Linked DNA regions of Homo sapiens: region 1 is linked to region 2. A link means that fine-mapping ties the variant in region 2 to the expression of a gene that starts in the linked region. Tissue or cell type: NK cells. Region 2 holds a variant in brackets; the other region holds the start of a gene. All regions are shown on one strand. Distances are between the middles of the regions.

The links. PIP is the estimated chance that this variant, and not a neighbour inherited with it, causes the effect.
Region 1: ZNF831 starts here. The variant in region 2 is fine-mapped to the expression of ZNF831 in NK cells (Gilchrist 2021, PIP 0.95).

What each region holds. Positions count from the first base shown.
Region 1 is chr20:59,162,643-59,165,329 of GRCh38, reverse strand. ZNF831 (zinc finger protein 831) reads right to left here and starts at 1,509. Exons shown (of 6, transcript NM_178457.3): 1 at 1,123-1,509.
Region 2 is chr20:59,257,352-59,260,038 of GRCh38, reverse strand. ZNF831 (zinc finger protein 831) reads right to left here. Exons shown (of 6, transcript NM_178457.3): 6 at 926-2,687. Among named protein-coding and RNA genes, the nearest start is that of EDN3, 42 kb to the left of the region's middle. The variant C/T (reference allele first, on the strand shown) is at 1,432.

The DNA.
Region 1 (2,687 bases), 95 kb after region 2:
CTACCCTACCTCCCTTTTACAGTCTTGGTTCTCTGCTTACATGATGTTCATGGTCTCTACCAGGAGAAAAGTCTCTCTAGCTGGTAACTCCACGGCGCCTGATAGTGAGCCCATTTCCCCTAGGCAGGTGCTTTTGGGTAACCCTGCTCACATGGCACTCCTCCTTCAGGACCAACCCTCCCCAGCTTCCCAGCGGAAGCACAGCTAAGGAAGCAAATCTCACAGACCCCAACATTGCCACAGAACCTAAGTGTTCTCTCTGATTAATATTAGCCTATGGTCCTAAATACTTGCTCTTAGCTGGGGCAATAAAGCGAGGGTGGTTAAAAGGCATATTATTTTAAACTGGCCCTGACGTTGATTCTGTTTTTCCCAGTCAGCTAATGTTACCATTTTTCTAAGTTGCATCCTGTCCCTCGTTGCATTTTGGTAGATAACATCTCTGGTTTCATTCTTACAGAAAGATTTGCTACGGGAAAGGAGAAACACGTTACCTCTCAGAGCATGGCTTCCATGGCTGATCTGAGATAGCCTCCAGCTCTTTGCTATTTTGGATACTGGGAAGTCAGATATGTGTATAAATACATGGACTATTGGCCCTTGTAAATCTCATTGAAAAATGCTACCCTTGGGTGGCTGATCAGTAGAATTGCTATAAATAGTAGCTCTATCAAATACCTTGATATTTCAATTATATTATATACAAATAAAAAACTTGGCCTAATAAAACATACATATATATGTGTATATATATACCACACATACTTGGGCTAATATGTTCTAACCAATTCACACTTTCAGTTTAATTAGGTTCATCACTGGGAAAAAAAACAGTTTATAAAGCAATAAATTTTCTTATAAATGTTTTTCTGTTTAGTAGAACATGGATTGTGGACCTGGTTTCTGACAGCCATTTTGAATTGTAGTAAATATTTTGACAAAAGCAACAGCAGTATTAAGCACATGAGAGAATTACTTGAACTGGGTCACACACAGTTTTACGTAGCATTTTCCCTTTAACTGCGTGCTTGAAGATAAATATATCATTAAGAACATAGAGTAAAAGAGTTTTTTTTTAACTGACATTTTATATATGCTTATGTCATGGAGCATGTTACATACCTTTATAAACAGTGGAGTGTTTTCAGCCAATGATGCTCTGATTCAAACACAATGATCTGGTTGCCCAGAGAAGACACCCACAGGTCCAGAAAGGACCACTGGGCTGGCCCCACAGAGAAGAGATGAGCTCAAGAGCCCGTGCTCTCACTCTCTGTAGGGAGCTCGCTACTCTTTGCTGAGAGGGCATTTTAGTGTTCTCTCCCAGTTCCTACTCTGCAGGCAGCATCTCAGAGAACGGAGAGATGCTCCCTGAGCCTTAGAAAATAAAATAAAATAAAAGAGGGCAGCCTCCTGTGGCTTGGCCTTTATGTCAAGTCCACGTTTAACTGAGAAAAGCACCATTTCAAGCAACCTGGAAGAGACTCAAGCAGAGATAAAACTTGGTATGGCCCAGAAATAGGAAGTAAATTATTTCCTATACATTACCTAACGTCACGGTAGCAACCCTTAGAAAACAGGAAGAGATAGAAGCAGACACGAAAAAAAAAAAAAAAGAGCCACCGCTCAGCTCTTTAGTAATTGTTACTATTGACCTAACAACCTATAAAGAGCTTGCTGCCCAGAAATGTAGGTGTGCAAAAAAACATTGCATTAGAGATGAGGTTGTTCTGTGCAGGCAAGTTTAAGAATTAGAGCCTAGGTGGTCGTTTTCCTGGAGATGTGGATGGAACAAGTGTTTGCAGAACCTCCACATGTAACCCCAGAGGTTCCTGAGGGCCCAGAATGAGCATTTCCACTGCAATTGACTATGGTGGGAGGTCCCAGTGAAAGATTTCTGCGATGCTGTCTTTATGTAAAATGGTGATATTTTGTTCAACATGGATTTGTTTGAATTAGGTTTTATTTTTAAGATATGGCACTGATCACTCTATTCAACATAGTACTGAAAATCCTAGCCAGAGCAATCAGGCAAGAGAAAGAAATAAAAGGCATCCAAATAGGAAAAGAGGAAGTCAAGTTATCTCTCTTCACTGATGATATGATTCTATATCTAGAAAACCCTAAAGTTGCCACCAAAAGACTCCTAGACCCAATGAATGACTTCAGTAGTTTAAGGATACAAAAATCAATGTACAAAAATCAGTAGCATTTCTATACACCAGTAATGTTCAAGCCGAGAGCCAAATCAAGAACACAATCCCATTTACAATAGCAACACACACACACACACACACACACACACACACACACACCTAGGAATACATCTAACCAAGGAGGTGAAAGATCTCTACAAGGAGAACTACAAAATACTACTGAAAGAAAACAAACAAATGATAAAACACTCCATGCTCATGGATTATAAGACTCAATATCATTAAAATGTCCATACTGCTCAAAGCAATTCAACACTATTCCTATCAAATTACCAATGTCATTTTTCACAGAATTAGAAAAAAACTATTCCAGAATTCATATGGAACCAAAAAGGAGCCCGAATAGCCAAAGCAATCCTAAGCAAAAATAACAAAGCCAGAGGCATCACATTATCTGACTTCAAACTATACTACAAGGCCACAATAACCAACACAGCATGGTATTGGTATAAAAATAGACACACAGACCAA
Region 2 (2,687 bases):
CCAAGTGCACTGGGTAGACCACTGGTAATATGAAGATGGTATTTAACTGGCACATGAACAATTTTTAATAGTTTTACTACATTTAATGCATATTTGAAAATATACTTAACTCGAAAATTCAACAAGTTTTCATAGACATTATTGCTTAGGGCAATAATTGCTTCTTTAACACAGAGATAATTTAAATAAAAGTATTAAGTAAAAAATATACCCACATGTGGCATCTTGATACATATGGCAAAAAGCATTAAGATGGTTCTCAAATGACTGAAGTTTGGAACAAATAGATTAATTATAATAACGGCGATTACAGTTTGATGAGTTTGGGGAAAAAAGCTATTAACTGCCATCAATTAGTATACCTGTTCCTTCCATATCCTCGATCCCACTTTTCCCTCCAATGAATTGTGCCCCACTGACTTCAAGTGTCTTCAAGAGGTATGTAAATAGACTAATAACATTGTGTTGGGCTGTAAAAGTAAGTCTACTTATTCTTGCAAGGAGTACATAAATCACCTTCATAAGAAGCTATGATTTTGATTTAAGGATGTTTTCTCTGTTAATGAATAATGCTAAATGTCCAGAAAACATCAAATCCAAGGGGAAAAGATTCTGGATTATTGCACTGTGGTTCGTGCCCTCCTGTGGCTTCAGAGTTTCGCTACATTTAAGAATCTAAAACCAGATTCCTAAGTTACAGACTATAAAATATGGCAGATAATGACAAACGAGCTATGTGTGAAAAGGAAGCACCACAAGAAAGTGAGATCATTTGACATGACCTAATCCCTTTGTTGAGTGGAATGGGATACCAATACGGCCAACGAGGCATTGGGTCAATGATTAGGAATAATCAGATGTCCAATTCATAAAGCATATGATTTGCAGGGGTTTTGGTTAAAATGTTAACAAATCACGTGAGACATTTGCATTTTAAGTTTTATTTTTATCAAAACAAAATAATTTAACCATATAAAGAAAGAAAGTTCAACAAACAACCAAGAAGCCAATCATTTCCCTGATTGTGAACAACCAATTGAGTAGTAAATCCTGAACAGTTGACCGCATATACAAGACATTCCGTCATCCTCTAGTGCTCCAAGTGGCAGAGGCTGATGTTTTTCCCTGGTTCCTATTCTTCCAGTGGTGAAGTAATGTGCTCAACTGTTCCTATACTTCTTCAGACCAAATTATGTATATTCCTACGTAAGTGCAAAGCATGGATGAAAAGAATCATACAGGGTAGAAATCCAGCACATAAGATTTTCTAGGTTCTGACCCTTATATTTAATGGGTTCTGAAAAATAAGGACAATAAATTGTGCTTAAATATTGAGAAATGTAGTGTTTCAAAAGCCAAAGTGCCTCCCTACATGAACTATGGGAAGAACAACTGAAGTGAGGAAAAATACACAAGCCCAGCTTGCTGCAG[C/T]AGTAGAAATATGATCACCCATAGAGCCAGGCAGGTCATATTCTCCTCACCATATTAAATTATGTCTGGGGAGTTGAGCAGCAGCACATTCCGATAATGATGACAGTTTCCATAACTATAAAGATCTGCTGCACCAGGCAAATTCTGTGCAAAATGCAAATTTCTGTGCTGGGGAAAAAAATGAATAATGTGATCATTCTAAGTAATGAATGTAAATGCAAGGAAATACTTTTTGGCATGAGACTGCAAATTGTTTATCTTTCATGCCAAGAACTGTGGTCACAGTGCACTTCTGCAAGGTTCCTCTTCCGGTCTCAGCTTTAGAAGAGTGATTTCAGGAAGAAAAAGTCTGTCTTGCCCTAGGTTACCCACCATGCTATTGGCAGTGTTTCCATTAAAATTCAGAGACACCCTCCTCCATCTTTTTTTTTAATCACTTGGCAAATGAACCATAGGTTCTCCTGGTTACTGTGAGATGTGAACCAAAGGGGATTATTAGCTTTGTCTCAAATCTCAAGGGTTAAGCCTAACAGGAGAGATGAGCTGTTTTTCAATGTGTTTTACAAGAAGGAGGATTCCAGTTGTCCACCAAAAATCACATGACTTTGAGTCACTTAACAATGTAGGTTGCCAAGGAGGGAAGGATTGAAACCTCTTCCCTCCATACATCTTTAACGACAAGATCTAGCTGGGTGTAGGTACAGGTGGAGAGAGAAACCTGGTGAGTCTTGAACATCATGGGGAAATGTCACTTTTGATATTGGCAAAAAAAAATTCAGTGCCCTTCCCTTAGTTCATGACAGCATCCCTCTAACTATTCTCTGTGGAAGAAACTGAGGCATCAGTTGGTTAAGACCCTTACCTAAAGATATAATAAAATTAACACTGGGAAAATTAGCACTGGGGAAAGAAGGAAATCCCTGATCTTTAAACTCTGGTTTGCTTTGTTCTAAAATAAATTTGTTTTTCCTTAACCATCATGCAGTACACACTTGCAGAGTATAAAACTGTGGTAGTTATCAATTGATAATACTGACATTTTATTTTTAGTAACCCAAACTGGGTTCTAGGTTGTTAATGTTACCCTTAAAATGTATTCTTATAATTGTATTTCACTTTAAGAAAACCCATAGGAAAATTAAGATTTATAAAATCAGAGATTGTTCATTGCTTTATAAAAAGATTCTTCATTTAAAAAAAATCTTTACCTTAGGATGCTTTTAAAGAGCCAGCTCCCTTAGGGTCATTCAAAATAC